Linked DNA regions of Homo sapiens. The protein of the gene in region 1 purifies or fractionates together with the protein of each later gene. This does not show direct contact. Each region holds a gene or a part of one and is shown in the gene's direction. Other genes may lie near its edges.

Region 1 (5,819 bases):
AAGAATAAAGCTGGGGCAAACGTGTCACTAGGCGGGCATGCTTGGCTGGGGGCCAGAGCAGGAGGGCACCAGGGTTGGCAGGGGCCAGCGGGGAAAGCGCCAGGCTGACCCTCTGGGGTGGGTCTCCGGGTCTCTGCTCACGGGCCTCTCTGTCTCCTCTTCAGACTCACTGCTCCTAAGATCCCAGAAGGGGAGAAAGTGGACTTCGATGTAAGTTTACAGGACTCTGGTTAACATGTCCACGGTTTCCCCACACCCCAGCTTTTGGGCTCTAGGCCTCAGAAGGTCACTTCCTCCCAAGTAGCCAGAGCCGGGGCCTCCTGGGTCTGGGCAATTCTACCATAGCTTATTCCTGGGCCAGAGGAAACCCCTCTAAGAATAAGCATCTCTCTTCCCTTCTCCTCCATCTATCCTTCTATCCATCCATCCACCCACCCACGTAAGCTCCTACCCATTCACCTATCCATTCATACACCCACCCACACACCCATCCACTCAACCATCTATCCATCCATTCATCCACCCAACCACCCACCTACCCATCCATCCATCCATCCATCCATCCATCCTGCCTTACTTCCATCCATCCAACCAGCCACGTATCCACTCACCCATTCATCCATCCATCCACCCACCCAACCACCCATTCATACACTCACCTACCTATCCACTCACTCATCTCTCCACTCACCTACTCGCTCACCCACCCATCCACCCATCCATCCATCCATTCATACCACTCATTCATCTACTCATCCATCCATCGATCCATCTATCATCCACTCACTCACATAACCATCCACTCATCCACCCTCCCACCCACCCACCCATTCACCCATTCATCCTCCCATCCACCCACCCACCCACTCACCCACCATCCACGCATCCTCTACCATTAATCCACATAATCATTCCTCCACCCATCTACCTATCCATCCATTCATCCATCCATCCATTTCTCCAATCATCCATCTATCCACCCAGTCATCTGTCTCCATCCTCTCTCACTCATCCACCCATCCATCAGCTCATCTGTTCACATGCCTACCTATGTATCCAACAATTTCTCTCACTCTGCAGTCTTCTCTCTGCCAGGCCCATGCAGGGCATCTCTGAGGATGATGACAGAGCCAAGTCAGGGCCAGTCCATCCTAAGGATGCTGAGGACCTTATGGCTGGGCACCATCCCTGCTGTGTGGCTCAGGAATCAGGCCACCCTCGGCCCCTATGAGGATAGCAGCCATGGCAATGTGGAGAAGGCAAAACATTCCTTGCCACTTGCCATTTTCATGGTGGCCAAGGGAGTCAGGGCTTCTCTGCTGGGGCAAAGGAAGGGACCTCTTGCTGCAAGGCAGGCCAGGCAGGGCAGAGGTTGGAGAGAGGGGTGGGGCTCACACCCACTGCCCCTGCCCACAGGACATCCAGAAGAAGCGTCAGAACAAAGACCTAATGGAGCTCCAGGCCCTCATCGACAGCCACTTTGAAGCCCGGAAGAAGGAGGAGGAGGAGCTGGTCGCTCTCAAAGAGAGAATCGTGAGTGGGGCAGTTCAGGTTGCAGCAGGGGCTGGTGGACTCCCTCGGAGGAGCCGGGGACAGGGCTGAGCAGACCCCCTTCTCTGGCTGCAGGAGAAGCGCCGTGCAGAGAGAGCGGAGCAGCAGAGGATTCGTGCAGAGAAGGAGAGGGAGCGCCAGAACAGACTGGCGGTGAGGGCACCATCCGCACTGCTGCCTCATCAGAGAATGAGCCCCAGGCCCAGAGAAATGCAGGGGGCTGAGGCCTTCCTTCTCCCGGGGTTCCCATTGTCATTGGCCAATGATCAGAACCACTGGCTAAGGCCCCGGCGCCCTGCAGAACCCCTTGCCAGAAAACAAATCCTGGCCAAGACCTGGAGCTTCCTTCCAGATAGTTCTAAGCCCAGGGTGGGCCCTTCCAGACAGCTCTAAGCCCAGGGTGGGTCCCTAAAGCCTGCCCAGAAAGCATAGCCCTCTCTCCATCCCTGAGCATCTTGGGAATGGGGTCTCCACAGGAGGAAAAGGCCAGAAGGGAGGAGGAGGATGCCAAGAGGAGGGCAGAGGACGACCTGAAGAAGAAGAAAGCTCTGTCTTCCATGGGAGCCAACTACAGCAGCTACCTGGCCAAGGTGTGTGCCGCTGCTGGGAGCACGGTGGTAGCCTTCAGTGTGGGCTACGCCCTGTGCCCTCCTGAGACCAGGCCCCTCTCTTTGGGCCTGTCCGCTGCAGGCTGACCAGAAGAGAGGCAAGAAGCAGACAGCCCGGGAAATGAAGAAGAAGATTCTGGCTGAGAGACGCAAGCCGCTCAACATCGATCACCTTGGTGAAGACAAACTGAGGTGAGGGGTGGGTGTTGTGGGGCTCAGCCCCACGGGGTGGCCCCTGCAGGAGCTGCCGACTGCTCCTCAGGCTGCCAAGGACCGTGCTCCCCAGTGGCTGCAGGAGGACTCCAGGGGCCTGGCCCTGCCTTTGGGGCTTATTCAACGAAGCCTCACCACTTCCTCTGCCCCAGGGACAAGGCCAAGGAGCTCTGGGAGACCCTGCACCAGCTGGAGATTGACAAGTTCGAGTTTGGGGAGAAGCTGAAACGCCAGAAATATGACGTGAGTCCCGGCACCTCCGGCCCTGGGGCCCTAGCGGCTTTCACCCACCAGCAGAGCAGCCATCTCCCTGCGTCCCTACCAAACTCTGGACCTGCCCACCCCAGGGACCTGGACCCTGAGAGGCCCAAACAGGCTGTTGCCACGGACCCCTGGCTGAGGCTGCTTTCCTGCTGGGGACTGTGGCCAGAGCCCGTCCTCCTGGCTGGCCATGCAGCGCCCTGAGCGATGAACCTGGCCCCTTTGGGCGGCCTTGGTTACCCCTGCCAAAAGGACTGTCGTGGCAGAGCAGCCATGGCCAAGTGGACTCAGGGTTCATTTTCGGAACCCCTTTAAGCTTATAGAAAGTCCCCATCATCACCCAGCTCGGCCCCGGGGCACCGAGTCCGTCTGGTGTGGGGCGTCCTTTCGACAGAGCCTCCTCCACAAACCCAGACTCTGGCTTCCACCAGGGCCCCGGACACCTGCTTCCTCAGGGCAGACAGAGAGGGGTGACACACTGCACCCTGTGGCTGGGAAAAGGGGCCTGGGACTGTGCCCGTCTGGGACGGAGCAGAGCCACCATCCCATGCAGGCACTATCACCGCAGGCAAAGCTGGGACTGGGGAAGGCAGCCTGCCCGGGCGGCCTCAGGGACTGGGGTACAATGTGGGAGCTAGGGTGGAAGCCAAGCTGCTTCCCACCCTCCCAAACACCCGTTTGGGCTCCAGGGGCGAGGGGTGAGGGGCGCAGCCATGGGTGATCCACGTGCTCGGGGCAAATGCAGACACTCCAGCATCACCATCAGGGCCACGATGTCCACCCTCCAGCACCGCCAGAGGCCCCAGGGGAGGGCGGCTGTGCCCACGGGGCTTGTGCTCTACCCAGGTGCAGCAGGTGTGGGGCGACCAGTCCAAGCCAGCCGGGCAAATCCGAGCTCCTTCTCGGGGGTTCTGGGCAGGCCACCTGTTCCACCTGAGCTTCCACGAGCTCCCCTCCGACAGAGGCAGGGCGATTACACTCCCTCCCAGAGCTGTCCCCAGGGGGTCCAGGCATGAGGGACAGCCCTGACCTCACCCTTGGGGCTCTCCCAGAGGGGCTGGCCCTGAGACGGGCTTCACGGCACAGGACCCAGGTCCTTCCCATGCTGTGTTCCCAGAGCTGAATCAGGGACCCACTGGCTTTGGATAGATGCGGCCACAGCGGGCCCCCAGGGGCTCCAGAGCCTGGAGGGCCATCACCAGGCCAAGCTAGCCCACAGCCGGGCCTCGATGCCCCAGCCGCCCATCCAGCCTTGTAACCATCTTGGTCTTTCTAGATCATGAATGTCCGGGCCAGAGTGCAGATGCTGGCCAAGTTGTAAGTAGCCGGGTCCGCCCTGGGCCAGGCCCGTGGGTGTGCGTTGCACGGTGAGGTGAACCTCTCGCATGGCAAAAACCTGGATCGCTCAGGATGCTGGCGGCAGGGGGCCTGGAGCCTTCCTCCTGCCCCCGCTCTCCCCTCGTGCCTGCAGCCGGGGGCTTCCCAGTGGCCGCTGCCCTGTTGGCAAGCGAGGAAGGGCCCCCACCTTCCCAGGAGCTCCGCCTCAAGCCAGCAGCGGCCACAGAGTGCCCCTGGGCACAGGCACGAGGGCGGGAGCGGCTGGCCCAGGAGCAGCAGGGCCGTTCGGAGCTCTGAGCTCAGCGGCTGAAGGGAGCTGGAGCTGAGAAGGAGGGGTCCGCAGGCCTCACCTGCAACCCCTCCCCAGCCCCATCCGTGCTCCGTACCCCCCGCCCCACATCCTGCCGCAGGCTGAAGGTAAGTGGCCAGCTACGGGCTGCTGTGTGTGGCAGTCCAGGCCAGTACAGGCTGGCGAGAGTAAGTCCAGGCATGAGCCCAGGGGCCACGGGACGGTGTCCCCCTGCACAAGGAGCCAGGAGACAGTAAGGGAGCCGAGGAGCCCTCATGGGGGCCCAGCAGCCCTGGGTCGCGCAGCCCAGCCCACCCTGCGGTGGAGACAGGCCTTCACCCAGTACACGCAGGCCTGGCCCTCGGGTCGTCGCAGTGAGTCACTCATGTTGTTCACAGATCACCACGCTCAGGAGCCGCATTGACCAGGCCCAGAAGCAGTGAGTAGCCCTGCCGTCCTCGCTCCGCACTGGGCACAGGGGCCCTTGGGGCCAGCCGCTGTAGCCAGTCCCTAACAAGGGCCGGTGGTGGCTGGCCTCGGCAGGGCAGTAACGAGACTAACCCGGCCAGGCCACCCAGGCCAGCATGCGCAGGCCTGTGGCCAGGGACCCGGAGCCTCCTCCCTCTCCTGCACGCAGGGGAGCCCTGGGGGGTGGCAGAGTCAGGAGGAGGGATCCCAATGGGGCTTGCCTGTCACGCCCTCGCCCCGAGTCTGGCACTGGCTGCAGGGAGAGGGCAGCCAGGGGACCCCTAGAAGGGGCTACTCGGGGGGCCTTTGGTGTGGCCAACCTGGGCCCCAGGGTATCCCGCCAGTGTCCCACCCTCCAAGGGGACCTAGGACAGGGAATTAAGCAGTCAGGGCTTCATCACCAGCCCCTCTGTGACGCTGGGCAAAATCATGGACTCCTCAGGATGGTGAAACCTCATCCATAAAATCGTGTCCCTGGGGGCTGTGGGATCCCTTGACACAGCTACTCGACCACCTGCATGGGGCTGCACCCAGGGTGCCCCCGGCGATGCCACGCTGGGGATCCTGTCATGGAGCCCAGCTGCACAGCCAGTGCCATTTCCCCAAGGATCGCAGTGTTTGGGGGCTACTTGGAGTTTCGATGTTTTCTGGGATTCTTCTCCCTCCTCCTGTCGCCTTGGCTTCCCTGCGGCGCCCAGGGCGGGCTCCTCCGTGGTGCACGTGACCTCACGGCCTCCCTGTTGTGCCGTCAGGGGTCATTGCAGACCCCTCTGAGGGTGGGCAGTCGGCGTGGTGTGCATGTGCCTGCGTGTGTGCATGTGTGCATGTGCCGAGAGTGCCCAGGAACGTGTGTGAGGGCACGGCCTTTGCCAGCCAGGTGTCCTGCTGAGCAGCCGCGTCTGAATGGGGCCGGCCTCGCGGGCCGAAGCACTCCTGTCCTCCACCCGCCTTCACCCCTCACCCGCACCCAGCTCCTCCCGGCTCGTGGCCACATGAAGACCTCAGACAAATGGGGCAGGCTCCTGGGCCCCTCAGAGGCCACCGTCTGGAGGGGCATGAGCTCTTTCAAGGCCAAGCGTCTAGGATTATAT
Region 2 (6,562 bases), on another chromosome or scaffold:
CCATAACCTCAGGGTGTCTAGATGGGTCTAGCAAGCTGTTCCCTGCAACACTGTGGTGGGTGGGGGAAAGGAGGTTGGAGCTGAACACCTGCCTTCCTGTGGCCACGACATGGAGCCTGGGTTGGAGTGCTGTTTACTCCAGGGGCTCCTGAGTTGGAAGCACACAAAGGGCAAGCCTCTGTCTTAGAACTGGCCCTGTGGATTGGTACGGGGGCTGCGGACCCCACCCTAAGTCACCTCTCCAGCCTGATTCTCACCACTGCCTCCTTGCCCTTGACATTTCAGCAGTCCATAAACCTGCACTCCAGGATCACTCCTTTACAGGAAGCATTATCCTGCCTTAAGAATCTGCCCTTGGCCAGGCGCAGTGGCTCGTGCCTGTAATCTCAGCACTTAGGGAGGCTGAAGTGGGCGGATCACTTGTTAGGAGTTTGAGGCCAGCCTGGCCAACGTCGTGAAACCCCATCTCTACTAAAAACACAAAAATTAGCCTGGCATGGTGGTAGGCGCCTGTAATCCCAACTACTCAGGTGGCTGAGGCAGGACAATTGCTTGAACCTGGGAGGTGGAGGTTGCAGTGAGCCAAGATTGTGCCACTGCACTCCAGCCTGGGTGGCAAAGTAAGACTGTGTGAAAAAAAAAAAAAACCTACCTTTAGCTGGTTGTGGTGGTTCACATCTGTAATTCCAGTGACTCCAGAGGACAAGGAAGCAGGAGGATTGCTTGAGGCCTGGAGTGTGAGATCGGCCTGGACAACAGAGTGAGACCCTGTCCCTAAAAATTTTAAATTTAAAATTTAGCTGGGTGTGGCAGCCCATGCCTGTAGTCCCAGTTACTTGAGAGGCTGAGGCAGGAGAAGTAATTGAGCCCAGGAGTTGGAGGCTACAGTGAGCTATAATTACACCAGTGCAATCCGGTCTAGGTGACAGAATGAGGCCAAAACAAACAAACAAACAAACAAACAAAAAAAACACCTGCCCTTTACCCTTTCTCAACCTGACAAATTGACTGACTTGTCTTGAAGGTTTGGCACCACTTCTTGGAAGCTTCCTCTGCTCCCCACCTGGGGTGATGCCCTCTTCTGGAAGGCTCTCACTGCTACACACACAGTGGCTGCCGAAGCTCAGCCTGGCTTTAGTTCCAGCCCTACTAGGTCTTCTCAGGACTCAGGATATCCAGGTGGAAGGAAGGCTGTGCCAGGTACCAACTACCCTACGTGGGATCGCCAAGATAAATCCCTCACATTCAAACTAGTCCCCCAACATCCGTCAACCCTATTCCTAACAGCAAATTGCCACCTTTAGTCCACTCCACAGTGCCCTCTGGAAGGGTCATCAAAAGACAGTTATGACCATACCAAACTATGATTCTTGACACAGAATCAAAAGTTATTTTCAATTTATTTTTTTTCTATTGTAGAACAATAATAATAATATTTAAAATCATATTTTCCTGTGATATAATTAAAACTGTGTTATTTCAATTGAATTTGAAATAGAATTCATGGTCTAAAATAGACTGAATCCCACTGTGAACATATATTTGCATGCCTTCCTCGTCATCATTCAGTTGGTGCAATTGTAAGGCATGCAATAACAAGGGAAGTGAACATTGCAGCACTGTGGCCTGTGGCCACGGTGATGGCGGGACAGCCCCACAGAGGCCACACCAGGTGACTCTCAGCTCGGTGGGTGGGAGGGGGAGTGTCTCTGTGTCCCTCTGGCACACACATCCTCACACAACCTCACATAGTCTTTTTTGCATTTGCTAGGCCATCTCATAACACTTAGGCTCATAAAATTCTGGCTTCCTTTGGATTAACTAAACCCATGGTCCCCCAAGATGGGGATTCCAGGGAGCAGGAGGGAGCCTCGAGGCAGCCCAGACTCCCAGCTGCAAACCTCACTTTCCAGAATACCACTGCCACACCTTGGCATATACCAAATGTTGACAAAGAAGGCTGTTCCCGTACAAGGGCCAATTTTAGAGCAAGCACCCTGTGGTTGGAAAACTGTAAAACCCTCAGCCCCAAAGCTGTGTGTGGCGCTTTGTGCGTGACAGGGCTGGGGCAGATCTCTCTGAGGCACTCAGGAAAACCATTCCCTTTGCTTGTGGTGGGCGGCCCCTGGTGGCTGCTCTGCCCTTGCCAAGTGTTACGTGTCTAAGGTCTGTGGGCATGTTTCTCATTTGCTGCAAAACATCCTCCCCACCCTTGCAGAGAAAGAGTCTTTTGTGCAGCACCCTTTAAAGGGTGACTCGTCCCACTTGTGTTCTCTCTCCTGGTGCAGAGTTGCAAGCAAGTTTATCGGAGTATCGCCATGAAGTTCGTCCCCTGCCTCCTGCTGGTGACCTTGTCCTGCCTGGGGACTTTGGGTCAGGCCCCGAGGCAAAAGCAAGGAAGCACTGGGGAGGAATTCCATTTCCAGACTGGAGGGAGAGATTCCTGCACTATGCGTCCCAGCAGCTTGGGGCAAGGTGCTGGAGAAGTCTGGCTTCGTGTCGACTGCCGCAACACAGACCAGACCTACTGGTGTGAGTACAGGGGGCAGCCCAGCATGTGCCAGGCTTTCGCTGCTGACCCCAAACCTTACTGGAATCAAGCCCTGCAGGAGCTGAGGCGCCTTCACCATGCGTGCCAGGGGGCCCCGGTGCTTAGGCCATCCGTGTGCAGGGAGGCTGGACCCCAGGCCCATATGCAGCAGGTGACTTCCAGCCTCAAGGGCAGCCCAGAGCCCAACCAGCAGCCTGAGGCTGGGACGCCATCTCTGAGGCCCAAGGCCACAGTGAAACTCACAGAAGCAACACAGCTGGGAAAGGACTCGATGGAAGAGCTGGGAAAAGCCAAACCCACCACCCGACCCACAGCCAAACCTACCCAGCCTGGACCCAGGCCCGGAGGGAATGAGGAAGCAAAGAAGAAGGCCTGGGAACATTGTTGGAAACCCTTCCAGGCCCTGTGCGCCTTTCTCATCAGCTTCTTCCGAGGGTGACAGGTGAAAGACCCCTACAGGTAATACCCTTTCCTTTACTCATATACAGAGACTACGTGTATATACTTATATACAGAGACTACGTGAGAGGCACTTAGCACTTTCACAGCTGCTGCGACCACATCAGAGTCTCAGCGTGTGTTTGGGGGTGGGTTTGAGGCTGTCTGTTGCAGAGCAGTGTAGATGAGGTAGTTCATCCGGAGTGGCACTTGACCCTGGAGTTGCATAGGAATCACCTACAAGGAGCTCTAAAAATGCTGATGCCCAGGCCCCTCGCCAGACCGTTCCATCTATGTCTCCAACATAGTAGCGCAGGAATGTGGACTTTTAAAACTCTCCCCCAAGTGATTTGAATGTGCAGCCAAGGTTGAGAATCTCCTTGTGATGGAACCACCTCACTGTTAGACCGAGGCCTTTGGAATTCTGCCGGGTAACGTTTCCTAATGAACCAAGCATTTGCTGCAGCTGTTAGTGGCCGAGGTGCTATGTCATGGTGGAGGTGTCGCCACACCCCGTCTTGTTCTCAGTTTTTTCTCCTACAGTCAAGTTAGGGTGGGGAGTGTTGTGCACTGAGGAAAGTTTGAGTCAAATAGTCTTTAAAGTCTTTCTCACAGCTCTCAAAGCCTTTAATTGTTTTTTGTTCATCACAGAGGAGAAAATCTAATTAATAATAACAGATTTAATCAACTCCAAGTATTGCTTTTAAAAGACCAAACTTTTTCTTGTGGAAATAAGGCTTATTACTGATCTCTATCCTTAAATGTAGCAGCTTTCATTAATTTTGCACACCAGTAAGGAGTTCATTTACATGGGATTCTAGTCTTACTTGTGCACTTTGAGTTTAAAAGGAGAGTTTCTGAGTTTTTTTCATATTATCTATGTAAGAAAAATAGGAACAAAGCAGATTTCCTGATAAACAGCACTTTGATAACGAATACCACCAAACAAATAAGGCTTTTTCTACAAGCGCCCAGGCAGCAAGAAATGTTGGTTCACAACAAAGTTGTTTTGGTGTCTGCTGTTCTGGGCTGGAGGTTTTCTGCTTGTTTAAGATTTCAGATCTGTCCCAGAGGAGAAAAGGGGACACTTAAGCCAAAAAAAGTTACTATTGAGAGGAGGTCCTTTTTTTTTTCTTTTTAAAGTGATTTTTTTGGTCTTTCTACAAATAAGACATACAAATCATTTGAAAAATTCAAACACAACAGAAAAATACAAAGAATTTTAAAACTTCATCCATAATCCCACCACACAGAGATAAACAATGTTAACAGAAGAGTACCCATTTAGACATCCATCCATGCGTATTTACACAGACAGATGTACAGCGTATATACAGATGCATACAGGCGCTAAAGCTCAAAACAATATCTTGATCCTGCAGATAAGCTGCATAGGACTACTGTATTAGCTTGCTGGGGCTGCCATAGCAAAATACCACAGAATGGGTGGCTTAAACAGCAGAAATATATTTTCTCACAATTCTGGAGACTGAAATTCCAAGATCAAGGTGTCAGCAGGATTGGTGTCTTCTGAGGACTCTCTCCTTGACTCATAGATGGCAGCCTTCTCTCTGTCATTCCTCTGCGTGGGTCTGTGTCCTCATCTCTTTTTGTTAGGATACCATTCACACTGGATGAAGTCCCACCCAAACAGCCCCATTTTACCTTAACCACCTCTTTAATGGCCCCTATCTTTAAATACAAACGCTCCCTGAGGTACTGGAGGTTAGGACTTAAGTCTACGGTTTTTAGGTTTTGGGAGGGACACAATTCACACAATTCAACCCATAACAACAAAGAAAGAATTTTTCATCCCTTCCTTTTTTTTTCTTTTTTTTTTTTTTTAGATCTGACCTCTCCCTGACAGACAACCATCTCTTTTTATATTATGCCGCTTTCAATCCAACGTTCTCACACTGGAAGAAGAGAGTTTCTAATCAGATGCAACGGCCCAAATTCTTGATCTGCAGCTTCTCTGAAGTTTGGAAAAGAAACCTTCCTTTCTGGAGTTTGCAGAGTTCAGCAATATGATAGGGAACAGGTGCTGATGGGCCCAAGAGTGACAAGCATACACAACTACTTATTATCTGTAGAAGTTTTGCTTTGTTGATCTGAGCCTTCTATGAAAGTTTAAATATGTAACGCATTCATGAATTTCCAGTGTTCAGTAAATAGCAGCTATGTGTGTGCAAAATAAAAGAATGATTTCAGAAATACGACTTTAGTCTTCTTAATGAACGTGATACCTAGATGCTATAGGGATCATGTATACCCATGAAGTCACTATTATTTTATTCAGGGTGCCATCGTGCATTACACAGACTAGGTGGCTTAAAGCAACAGAAATGTGTTCTCTCACAGTGATGGAGGCAAGAAGTGCCTCAAGATGTCACCAAAGTTAGTTTCTCCTGGAGGGTCTCAGGGAAAATCTGTTCAATGCCTCTCTGTCAGTTTCTTAAAGTTGCTGGAATCCTTGACATTCCTTGGCTTATAGACATATCACTCTAATCCCTGCCTCTGTCTTCACATGGAATTTTCCCTTGCGTGTGTGTCAAATTTCCCTCTCCTGATAAGGGCACCAGCCATTGGATTAGGGTCCATCCTAATCAAGAAAGACCTTATCTTAACTCCATCATGTCTGCAAACACCCTATTCCCAAATAAGATCATATTCACAGATTCCAAATGGACATAAATTTTTGGTGGGCACTATTCAACCCAGCACAGCCACCATGCAGCAATAGCAACTAGCCAAAAAGATAGAGAAGTGAACCTGAAAAAGAACAACCCTGTACACTCAGCAATTAAATTAATCAACAGAGTTGGAAAGGAAGAAAATTAGATTTTATTAGACATACGCGAAAAGTGACTCACTTCTTAATTTCGTATTTGTCTTACCTAAGAACACATTAATAGTCTACTCTCTCTCTTTTTTTTCTAATGGCTATTTATTTATTCGAGATGGGTCTCGCTCTGTCACCCAGGCTGGAGTGCAGTGGTGCAATCTCGGCTCACTGCAACCTCCGCCTCCTGGGTTCAAGCGATTCTCCTGCCTTAGCCTCCCGAGTAGCCGGGATTACAGGCATGTGCCACCATGCCCAGCTAATTTTTGTATTTTTAGTAGAGACAAGGTTTCACCATGTTGGCCAGGCTGGTCTTGAACTCCTGACCTCAGGTGATCCGCCCGCCTCGGCCTCCCAAAGTGCTGGGATTACAGGCGTGAGCCACTGTACCTGGCCCACTAGTCCACTCTTGATGTACTTAAATTGTTTCCCCAACTAGCCCAGCAGTGCCCAACCCTAGCTACATAATGGAGTCACCTGGGGCAACTTTTCAAAAACACTGGTGCTTGGACGTCAGCACCAGAGGTTACGGTGTAACTGGCCAGGGATGGGGCCTGAGCATGTGCAATTTTACATTTCCCCTGGTGACTCTAATATGCAGCCAAGTTTGAGAAACACCGCCCTTAATTAATTGAATTAGAATCTCTGGGGTGTATCCTAAGTAATTTCCAGGCAATTCTATGTGTAACCTGAGTTGAAGACTACTAATATGGCCTCTATATGTAGTTCAC
Region 3 (5,819 bases), on another chromosome or scaffold:
AAATTAGTTTACTCTGGATGTCAGAGCACGGGAATTGTTAGTAGAATTTACAGGTTAGATTTGATCTCATTCTTCTGGGACTTATTTCTTTTCTTGTTAACCATCAGGAAAAGAAGTTTTATTACTGATGCAAGCCCTAAACACCCTTTCAACCCCAGAGGAGAAGCTGGCAGCTCTCTGTAAGAAATATGCTGATCTTGTGAGTATTAAGCCAAGGATGTGAGAGCCATATAAAATATAACAAAATGTGTGTGTGCTTGATAAGTTTCTTAAAGTACAAATTTGATATGGCCTTAAATGTAAAATTATATTTTATTCTGAAATTGAAGAAGAGAATCTGTTTTGTTGGGGCTTTTTATTGGTTGTATAGTTTCATTTTATGAGGTAATATATAGGGAACATTGTAATACTAAGATGTGGCATAGATTTTCTAAAACTCAGTTTTAGAGTCTAAGTCAGCCTTTCCATTGCTATGTTGTGATGCCTTAGGTGCCACTCAGTTGGGGTGTAGTGGTTCCTGTCTTAAACTTTTCCTAAGGGAATTCTAGAGATTGAGGACTGTTTTGATTGAGATTGTGAGTTACATGAAATCATCTGCTAAAACAATACTTTGTCTCAGAAATACTTCTTTAGCATCTACTATGTGTCAAGCATCCTTTTTTCCATTTTCTAGAAACAGTGACCTTATCAAAGAGTTTGTTCTCAGCTATATTATTTTATTTTATTTTTTTGAGACGGAGTCTCGCCTGTGGTCCAGGCTAGAGTGCAGTGGTGTGATCTCAGCAGACTGCAAGCTCCACCTCCCGGGTTCACGCCATTCTCCTGCCTCAACCTCCTGAGTAGCTGGGACTACATGTGCTCGCCACCACGCCTGGCTAGTTTTTTTAATTTTTTAGTAGAGATGGGGTTTCACCGTGTTAGCCAGGATGGTCTTGATCTCCTGACCTCGTGATCTGCCCGCCTCGGCCTCCCAAAGTGCTGGGATTACAGGCATGAGTCACCGCGCCCGTCCATTCTCAGCTATATTACAGGTATTACAGGTAGCATTAATTCTCTTTTTGGAGTTTCTTTCTTTCTTTCTTTCTTTTTTTTTTTTTTTTTTGAGACGGAGTCTCGCTCCGTCACCCAGGCTGGATTTCAGTGGTGCGATCTTGGGTCACTGCATCCTCCGCCTCCCGGGTTCAAGCTATTCTCCTGCCTCAGCCTCCTGAGTAGTTGGGACTACAGGCGCGTGCCACCACGCCTGGCTAATTTTTTGTATTTTTAGTAGAGATGGGTTTCACCGTGTTAGCCAGGATGCTCTCCATCTCCTGAACTTGTGATCCGCCCGCCTTGGCCTCCCAAAGTTCTGGCATTACAGGCATGAGCCACTGTGCCTGGCCCGTGAGGGCAGTTTCAACTTGGAAACCCTGCCATCCTATTTGAATTGAAGAATGGGAAAATCATAGAACCCTTTAAAGGAATGGTTGCGGGAAGCTTTTAGAATAAGTGGTTCTAATATAAATGCTAAAATTATTGCCTTTTGTGACATACTTAGGTGAATTATCATGTACAATTTATATGCATCTTCATCTGTTAAAACAGTTAATTCCATATCATAAGCCATTACTTTTTTTTAAATCAATGATCAGCTCTAAAAAAATGAATTCTGAGGCTGGGCGCGGTGGCTCACGCCTGTAATCCCAGCACTTTGGGAGGCCAAGGTGGGCGGATCACGAGGTCAGGAGATCGAGACCATCCTGGCTAACACGGTGAAACCCTGTCTCTACTAAAAATACAAAAAAAAAATTAGCCTGGCATGGTGGCAGGCGCCTGTAGTCCCAGCTACTCGGGAGGCTGAGGCAGGAGAATGGCATGAACCCGGGAGGCAGAGCTTGCAGTGAGCCGAGATCGTGCCACTGCACTCCAGCCTGGGCAACGGAGCGAGACTCCATCTCAAAAAAATAAAAAATAAAAAAACTGAATTCTGTTAGTTTATTGCCTCAAGAATGACAGTTACAGGCCAGGCATAGTGGCTCACGCCTGTAATCCCAGCACTTTGGGAGGCCGAGGTGGGTGGATCACGAGGTCAGGAGATCAAGACCATCCTGGCTAACACGGTGAAACCCCGTCTTTACTAAAAATACAAAAAAAAATTAGCCGGGTGTGGTGGCGGGTGCATGTAGTCCCAGCTACTCGGGAGGCTGAGGCAGGAGAATGGCGTGAACCCGGGAGGCGGAGCTTGCAGTGAACTGAGATTGCGCCACTGCACTCCAGCCTGGACGACAGAGTGAGACTCTGACTCAAAAAAAAAAAAAATGACAGTTACTTTCCCTTAGTTTATGAAGTGGTCCAGGTATACCTCAGTTAGCTGGCATTCAGCAGCTTGGCACCTTTCACTATTTGTAGCAACAGGACGCCCTGTGCATCAGTGAAAATGTCCCAGAGCAGTCACAAATGCAAAGATGGCCGAAAACACAGCGTGGTTGGATTGATGGCTTCAGGAAAGGAATGCTTCCATTGGCTGTGGAAGCCAGTCCCCCTTGGTGCCTTTCACATGGGGAGAATCATGCAAGAAATGGCGGAAAAAGAAGAAAGACAAGAACAGAAAAGGGAAAAGAAAAAATGGAGAAAAGAGTAAAAACCAGAAAAAGCAGTGTCGAAGGTTAGCTACCCAACCCAGTGATGTGACAATGACAGACAGCCATGAATTGGTTAGAAGAGAGAACAAACAGTGATCTGGGGTGGTTGTTCTCAGACTCACACCGATCATTGAACTTGTGGTTAAAATGCACATTCTGATTCACTAGGCCTTGGTTGGGGCCTGAGGATCTGCATTTTAACAAATGCCCGGGCAACAGTGATGATGCTGCCAGACCTTGGATCACACTTGAAGTAGCAGGGGTCTAGGGTGTTTTTGTTTGTGACTTTTGGTTTTATTGTTTTGATTGTGGATAAGGTTATTGCTAAGCACCAGCAGTAATGACTGTGTTCATTTCAGGATGTGACACATTGAAGACTTGCCTAGTGAGTAATCTCTCTTTTATACAGATTTGTGCCAAAAATTTGAAAGACAAAATGTGTATTGTTTCCAGAAAATGTTCTAAAGCTTGATTTCTTGAAGCAACACATATTTCACTTAAAAGGTAGATATAGGCCGGGCGTATAATCCCAGCACTTTGGGAGGCTGAGGCAGGCGGATCACCTGAGGTCGGGAGTTCGAGACCAGCCTTACCAACATGGAGAAACCCCGTCTCTACTAAAAATACAAAATTTGCTGGGCGTGGTGGCGCATACCTGTAATCCCAGCTACTCAGGAGGCTGAGGCAGGAGAATCACTTGAACCTGGGAAGCAGAGGTTGTGGTGAGCCGAGATCGTGCCATTACACTCCAGACTAGGCAACAAGAGTGAAACTCTGTCTCAAAAAAAAAAAAAAAAAAAAAAAAAAGTGGAGTATATATATGTGAGGTCACCAAGGGAGTCACAGCCTTTTCCCAAGGATTATTCTGAAAAGTTCCCTTCCCTTTTGCCATCACTGTCTTCTGCCCGTTTATGACATATATCGTCTGATGTCATTGTGCTTGTTGCACTGACATGCATAACTGTTTTGTGGAGCAGTTGGAATGGATTTCTGTGCACTGTAACTGGGATTGTCCATTGGAGAGACCCTGTGGCCAACATGTTCACCAGATCACATGGATTCATGAAATTGTAGCATTTTGCTTTTAGCTGTGGATACCATTAACATGATCCTTAAGTACTTTATAATGCTATTCTTTCCCATCCTGTAGTCAGTTTGTACAGATTATTATAGCATAATAATCTTAATATATGCTTGGGGTAGGTTCCATTCTCCTTACTCTTTTCTTCTGAAGTATCTTGGCTATTCTTGGCCCTTTACTCTCTATAGATTTTAGATTCAATTTAGTAGTTCCGTGTGTTGGGGGGCACTATTTGGGATTTCAAAGAGCATTTCACAGAATCTGTAGATACATTTGGGGGAGAATTGCCATCCTCATGATATTAATGTAACTTAAAAAATGGTTATCCTGGCCAGATATGGTAGCTCAGCCCTGTAGCATCTGCACTTCAGGAGGCTGAAGCAGGATTGCTTACAATCAGGAGTTCAAGACCAGCCTGGGCAACGTCGCAAGACCCTGTACACACACACACACGCACACACGCCTGTAGTCTCAGCTACTTGGGAGGCTGAAGTGGTAGGATTGCTTGAGCCCAGGAATTGGAGGCTGCAGTGAGTTCGTGCCACATGGCAACCCAGCCTGGGCGACAGTGCAAGATGCTATCTCCAAAAAAAAAAAAAAGTTATCCTTTTGAGGAAAAAGTAAAATTAGATCCTTACACACCAGAGGCAACAATCAATTCCAAATAGATTAAAGGCTTAAATGTCAAAAATTAAGCTTTGAAATTTGTAGATATTATTTTGATTTATCAATAGATAAATATTTTTCAAACCTTGAGTTTAGGAAATATTTCTTATAGCACAAAAAGCACTGTCAGAGGAAAGATTGTACAAATTTGCTTTATTGAAATTAAGAACTTTGTTTTCGTCAAAAGATGCCCTGAAAAAAAGTGAGAAGATGGCCAAGCGCGGTGGCTCACACCTGTAATCCCAGCACTTTGGGAGCCTGAGGCAGGCGGATCACGAGGTCAGGAATTCAAGACCAGCCTGTCCAATATGGTGAAAGCCCGTCTCTACTAAAAAAATAAAAAAAAAAAAATTAGCCGGGCATGGTGTTTGCGCGCCTGTAGTTCCAGCTACTCAGGAGGTTGAGGCAGGAGAATCGCTTGAACTGGGGAGGCGGAAGTTGCAGTGAGCCAAGATCGCACCACTGCATTCCAGCCTGGGCAGCAGAGTGAGACTTCATCTCAGAAAAAAAAAAAAAGTGAGACGACATTACAAACTGGGGAGAACATATTTCCAACAAATATAACCAGCAGGCGATTTAGTATCAAGAATATCTAAAGAACACTAATGTGAAAAGGACAAATAGCCCTATGGAAAGCTGGATGAGAGACATGAAAGGGACATTTCATAGAAGTGGAAAAACAAAGATACGAAGATACCTTAACATAAAGGTCCATAAACATTCAAAGAGATGTTCCACCTGATAAGTGATTAGGGAAATGCAAATTAGGACCACAGTGAGATGCCATTTTACGTCTATTGTAGTGGCATAAATGAAGAAATCTGATCATTTTGGAGAGGATGTGGATCTACGTGGTCTCTTATATATTGCTGTTGGGAATATCAATTCACCATTGTCATGTGAAATCAAACATTTAGAAATCATTGCCCAGCAACCTCATTTCTGATGTTTGCACAGAGGAGAAATTCCTGACACGTGTATACCAGGAAACACATGAGAATGTTCATACCACTGTGAGTAATAACAAAACCTAGAGACAGCCCAGATGCCTGTTGATGCAAGAAGATGGATTAATAAAGAGTTTTGTGTGTATGTGTGGTGTGTTTTTATTTTTTATCTACTTGTTTGTTTATTTTTCAGACAGGGTCTCACTCTACCACCCAGGCTGGAGTGCAGTGGCGCAATCATGGCTCACTGTTTATTTTTTAGAGACAGGTTCTCACTTTGTGTGGTATGTTTGTGTGTGTGCTGTGTTTTTAAAAAGTGGAATATTATACAGCCTGTGGGCCAAATGCATCCGAAGTCTGTTTTTACACTGCCCACAAGAATGGTTTTAATTTTTAAGATGTTTAAAAATAAAGAACACGTGACAGAGACCATATGTGGCCTGCAGTGCCTAAAATATTTACTTGCTGGCCCTTTACAGAAAAAATCTGCTAAGTCCTGATCTG
Region 4 (5,819 bases), on another chromosome or scaffold:
TGCCCAGCTAATTTTTGTGTTTTTAGTAGAGACAGGGTTTCACCATGTGGGCCAGGCTGGTCTCGAACTTCTGACCTCAAGTGATCTGCCTGCTTTGGCCTCCCAAAGTGCTGGGATTACCATGTGTGAGCCACCATGCCCAGCCATATTTTTTAAAAATCTAACTTTGTTTATGCAGAAAGTACTCTTTTTCAGACACAGAAGATTTTTTCACCACATATAATTTTCAAAAATAATTACAAGCTCTTTTGTGAGTATTGATCAATGGATAACTCATTGTTATTAATTGGGTATATTAAATACCATATATTATAGTAGATAGTTGAGTGAGAAGTAGAGGGAGATTTAGAGTAGAATTTCTATCTGTTCTTTGCTTTTCCCCCAGCTCCTTCAAAAGCAGAGAGGATAAATTATTGCTTCAGTCTTTTAGTTATATATATACCAAAGCAAGAGAACCTATTCACAGAGGAGAGCTTTTTATACTGCATATAGATGATTTATAGAAATCCTACTTTCCATTCTTAGGTAGAGTCCAGGGTTGACATAGAGATTATTTTTTGGAGGACAAGAGTGGCACGATTCTTAGATATAAGTGTTAAGAAGTCTTAGTTGAAAACCTATACTTTTGTAGAGAGTAAAATTAGCAGATGCATCTGAGAAGGCAAATATTTTTACATTGTTAGTCATTTAGGCTACTTGACACTTAGTTCTCTTTGCGATTTTATAAACTCAATGGCTTTTTTAGCATTTGAGTATAAATTAATGATAAATATTATTTGATCATAAAGTCTTAGATTTTATAGAAAATTAGAATAAGGCAAATTCACGTCGAGGAATTCGTGTAGTGATTTGTAGTTACTTGTTGCCTCACTAAGAAGCGATTAGTAAATGTGTCTTGTTATGCAATTATTCTCTTTTTATAGGCCTGGCAAAAAGCACGAAGTGATGGGTGGGAGCGAGCCTTTTGTGAAAAGAATTTTCTTTCACAGGCTACTATGGAAATAATCATAGGCATGAGAACACAGTTGCTTGGTCAACTTAGAGCATCAGGTAAAGTTTTTCCCTCAAAGAGCCTATTTAAGTTACTGAGAGTACCCTGCCCATATTTCATAGTATTTCTTATGTTAACTGATGCCATCTATTATTTTTATGACATTATCATGTTGTGTATCTTATATTCATGCATGATTTGTAGACTTCGATATGTCTTCAACTTTTGCTTGTTGATGAAAAAATGCTATTGCAGGAGGTGTATTTGAGAAATCTAGGGACAGAATCTATATGCTTGTGATACTGTTGGCAATGAACAATTTGTATTGGTTGGCAGAGATCAATTTAGATCTTATAGTTATTTTCTTTTATCACCATTAATGAATACTTATTTAGTTCTGTGAAATAGAAATTTTAAAAAATTGATATGAATGCTGCTCTTCATATTTTTGGAACACAAAAACAGCTAGTAATACTTGAAGTCACCTTTTTTTTTTTTTTTTTTTGAAGAGGATGCTAGTATTGCTATTACCTTTTAGAATTGCCTTTTTGAGTAGCAAAAAAAAATTGATGTGGTAGTCAGAAGAATAGTACCAGAGCCTGGATTCATGGGTTAGCTGAAGTGCCAGAGTAATATAAGGAATGAACCAGAGGACTTAAGAGTTGACTTGAACATAAGGAAATATGAAGGACTTTTGAAACTCAAGCAAAAATTACCATATATTTACTTGACTTCATCTACAGAATTAGTATCTATCATAACCAAAATGTTGTTAATAACAGTCAGAAGAATGGTTTGGGTTTCCAGCTATGAATTTAGTTTGTTTCTGGCAGCAGATTATGAAGAACTTTATTGCAAGAATGTGGATCTAAAAAAATTTAAGCCCCAAGTGATTCTTATACTTAATCTAACCTGAGCAGATCTACACTTCCCTAGAATGTTGGTTCTGTATCTGTTTTAGGGTGGGGAGGGGTGGTTCATATTTTAAACAACTTTCCAGAGGAGATTCTATTAATTATCGTGAAATTTGAATATCACAAAATTTACATGAGTTGTACAAGTTTTTGGAAAAAATACACAAAAGTATCTTTTGCACAATAGAAAAATTGGTGTGGTTTTTTTCCCCTCTAGGTTTTGTTAGAGCACGAGGTGGTGGTGACATTCGGGACGTTAACACAAACTCTGAGAATTGGGCTGTCGTTAAAGCTGCATTGGTGGCAGGCATGTATCCTAATTTAGTCCACGTGGACAGAGAGAATCTAGTGTTGACAGGGCCAAAGGAGAAAAAAGTACGATTTCATCCTGCTTCAGTTCTCAGTCAGCCTCAATATAAAAAGGTAAAAGATTTTGAATGCTGTTGGGTTTTGAGGTGAAACTAATTTAGGTAGTTCACTATCAATGAAAAATGCTCCAAATACCTGCCTGCTTTAAGAAATTAATTAGTTATATATATATATATATATATATCATTAAATATTGGAACAAAACTTATAAATTTTAGAGTTGGAAAAGGTAACATGTTAAGTAATGAGTACTTTTGTACGAACTACATGAGCGATGACTTGTTTTAATTTTTGCTTACGTACTAATATACATCATCTATTTCATTGAGAGACTTTACATTTTAAAAGTATTTCCAATAAACTAGGTGATAAACACAATTAACAATTTTTAAAATTTATTTTCTTAATAGATTCCTCCAGCCAATGGTCAAGCTGCAGCAATTAAGGCACTGCCCACAGATTGGCTTATTTATGATGAAATGACCAGAGCCCATAGAATAGCTAATATTAGATGTTGTTCAGCAGTGACGCCTGTCACTATATTGGTATTCTGTGGACCAGCTAGATTGGCAAGTAATGCTCTTCAGGAACCTTCATCCTTTAGAGGTAAATGTATTAAGGAAATAAAAATCTATTTGAAATGAATTTTTTTTTTTTACCAAATAATGAAATTATTTTACTAAACCAAATAATGAAATTATAAAGATTTATATAGTAGCAGCTCTATTTTGATGTACTAAGACTAATTAGGAAATACTAAGGTATACTACTGTTTTTGAAATTTATTTATAAGGTAACTTGATGTTTATTTGTGCATTTTTTATTAATCTTGCTGTTGGGAAGAAATTTTTCTTTTCCACTTGAATTTAAATGATAGTTTAACGTAAATAAAGTTAATTGTAAAAGAAATAATAGCCACCCATAATCTCATTTTTCTCATGCTAACACTTTTTAATGTTATATTTTTTCTACATGTTTACATATTTTAAATTATTTCACCCAAACTGTTATTTTATATTTTGTTATTTTCATTACAGAGATATCAAAAATATTTTTAGTATTTTATATTAATGACTGCAAAATAGTATATCACATTGAAGTGGCATAATGCATTTTTTTCCTTCAACTTTTATTTTAAGTTCAGGGGTACATGTGCAAGATGTGCAGTTTTGTTGCATAGGTAAAGGTGTGCCATGGTGGTTTGCTGCACAGATCATGACATCATGTATCTATCAAGCCCAGTGTCCATTAGCTATTCTTCCTGATGTTCTCCCTACCCTCTACCACACACCCCCAGTAGGCCCCAGTGTGTGTTGTTCCCCTGTCTGTGTCCATGTGTTCTCATCATTCAGCTCCCACTTATAAGTGAGAACATGCGGTGTTTGGTTTTCCATTCCTGCATTAGTTTGCTGAGGATAATGGCTTCCAACTTCAGCCATGTCCCTGCAAAGGACATGATCTAATTCCTTTTTATGGCTGCATAGTATCCCATGGTGTATATGTACCATATTTTCTTTATCTAGCCTACCATTGATGGGCATTTGGGTTGATTCCATGTCTTTACTATTGTGAATAATGCTGCACTGAACATACAAATGTACTTATCTTTATAATAGAATGATTTATATTCCTTTGGGTATTTACCCAGAAATGGTATTTCTGCCTCCAGGTCTTTGAAGAATCACCATGCTGTCTCCCATGGTGGTTGAATTAATTTACACTAGTGTAATTTAATTACACAGTAGTGTAAAAGTGTTCCTTTTTCTCTACAACCTCACCAGCATGTTGTTTTTTGACTTTTTAATAATAGCAATTCTGATCTCATTGTGGTTTTGAATTGCATTCCAGTAATGATCAGTGACGTTGAGCTTTTTTTCATATGTTTGTTGGCCACATGTACATCTTTTGAAAAGTGTCTGTTCGTGTCCTTTGCCCACTTTTTAATGGGTTGTTTTTTCTTGTAAATTTGCTTAAGTTCCTTGTATACTCTGGATATTAGACCTTTGTCAGATGGATAGATTGCAAAAATTTTCTCCCATTCTGTAGGTTGTCTGTTTCCTCTGATGATAGTTGTTTCTTTTGCTGTGCAGAAACTTTAGTTTAATTAGATCCCATTTGTCAATTTTTGCTTTTGCTGCAATTGCTTTTGGCGTTTTTATCATGAAATCTTTGCCTGTGCCTATGTCCTGAATGGTATTGCCTAGATTTTCTTCGAGGGTTTTTATGGTTTAGAGTTTTACATTTAAGTCTTTAATCCATCTTGAGTTAATTTTTGTCGAAGGTGTTAGGAAGGGGCCCAGTTTCAGTTTTCTGCATATAGCTAACCAGTTCTTTCAGCACCATTTGTTAAATAAGGAGTCCTTTCCTCATTGCTTGTTTTTGTCAGGTTTGTTAAAAATCAGACGGTTGTAAGTGTGTGGTCTTATTTCTGAGTTCTCTATTCTGTTCCATCATTCTATGTGTTTGTTCTTATACCAGTACCATGCTGTCTTGGCTACTGTAGCCCTGTAGTATAGCTTGAAGTCGGGTAGCGTGATGCCTCAGCTTTGTTCTTTTTGCTTAGGATTGTCTTGGCTATATGGTCTCTTTTGGTTCCATAAGAATTTTGAAATCGTTTCTTCTAAGTCTGTGAAGACTGTCAGTATAATGGGAATAGCATTGAATCTGTAAATTTCTCTGGGCAGTATGGCCATTTTCATGATATTGATTGTTCCTATCCATGAGCATGGAACGTTTTTCCATTTGTTTATGTCCTCTCTGATTTCTTTGAGCAGTGATACGTAGTTCTCCTTGAAGAGGTCCTTCACTTCCCTTATTAGCTGTATTCCTAGGTATTTTATTTTACTTTATTTTATTTTATTTCATTTTTTTGAGATGGAGTCTTGCTCTGTCACCCAGGCTGGAGTGCAGTGGCACAATCTCAGCTCACTGTAACCTCCGCCTCCTGGGTTCAAGCAATTCTCCTGCCTGAGACTCCTGAGTAGCTGGGATTACAGGCACGCACCACAATTCCTGGCTAATTTTTGTATTTTTACTAGAGACAGGGTCTCACCATGTTGGGCAGGGTGATCTTGAACTCCAGACCTCAAGGTGATCCATCTGCCTGCCTTGGCCTCCCAAAGTGCTGCAATTACAGGCGTGAGCTATCATGCTTGGCCTTTTCCTATGTATTTTATTTTTGTTGCAATTGTGAATGTGAATTCATTCATGATTTGGCTCTCTGCTTGCCTGTTGTTGGTATATAGGAATGCTAGCAATTTTTGCACATTGATTTTATATCCTGAGACTTTGCTGAAGTTGCTTATCAGCTTAAGAAGCTTTTGGACTGAGATAATGGGTTTTCTAGATGTAGATCATATCAACTACAAACAAAGATAATTTGACTTCCTCTTTTCCTATTTGAATACTCTTTATTTCTTTATTTTGAGATGGAGTCTCACTTTGCCGCCCAGGTTGGAGTGCAGCGGTGTGATCTCAGCTCACTGCAACCTCCGCCTTCTGGGTTCAAGCAATTCTGCTGCCTCAGCCTCCGGAGTAGCTGGGAT

Evidence for each region.
Region 2: the proteins of TNNT3 (region 1) and FGFBP2 purify together in Homo sapiens (co-immunoprecipitation; one large-scale study listed by IntAct). This does not show direct contact.
Region 3: the proteins of TNNT3 (region 1) and TXLNG purify together in Homo sapiens (affinity purification with mass spectrometry; one large-scale study listed by BioGRID and IntAct). This does not show direct contact.
Region 4: the proteins of TNNT3 (region 1) and YTHDC2 purify together in Homo sapiens (affinity purification with mass spectrometry; one large-scale study listed by BioGRID and IntAct). This does not show direct contact.

What each region holds. Positions count from the first base shown.
Region 1 is NC_000011.10:1,932,305-1,938,123, forward strand, and holds part of TNNT3 (troponin T, fast skeletal muscle), read left to right. Parts: intron 1-164; coding exon 165-210; intron 211-1,416; coding exon 1,417-1,533; intron 1,534-1,626; coding exon 1,627-1,704; intron 1,705-2,027; coding exon 2,028-2,141; intron 2,142-2,241; coding exon 2,242-2,351; intron 2,352-2,524; coding exon 2,525-2,615; intron 2,616-3,909; coding exon of another isoform or gene 3,910-3,950; intron 3,951-4,658; coding exon 4,659-4,699; intron 4,700-5,819. UniProt on the Homo sapiens protein: Troponin T is the tropomyosin-binding subunit of troponin, the thin filament regulatory complex which confers calcium-sensitivity to striated muscle actomyosin ATPase activity.
Region 2 is NC_000004.12:15,958,886-15,965,447, reverse strand, and holds FGFBP2 (fibroblast growth factor-binding protein 2 precursor), read left to right. Parts: upstream 1-2,272; 5' UTR 2,273-2,318; coding exon 2,319-2,990; 3' UTR 2,991-3,010; intron 3,011-4,836; 3' UTR 4,837-5,203; downstream 5,204-6,562.
Region 3 is NC_000023.11:16,820,057-16,825,875, forward strand, and holds part of TXLNG (gamma-taxilin), read left to right. Parts: intron 1-107; coding exon 108-199; intron 200-5,819. UniProt on the Homo sapiens protein: May be involved in intracellular vesicle traffic. Inhibits ATF4-mediated transcription, possibly by dimerizing with ATF4 to form inactive dimers that cannot bind DNA. May be involved in regulating bone mass density through an ATF4-dependent pathway.
Region 4 is NC_000005.10:113,564,970-113,570,788, forward strand, and holds part of YTHDC2 (3'-5' RNA helicase YTHDC2), read left to right. Parts: intron 1-923; coding exon 924-1,050; intron 1,051-2,122; coding exon 2,123-2,328; intron 2,329-2,684; coding exon 2,685-2,880; intron 2,881-5,819. UniProt on the Homo sapiens protein: 3'-5' RNA helicase that plays a key role in the male and female germline by promoting transition from mitotic to meiotic divisions in stem cells.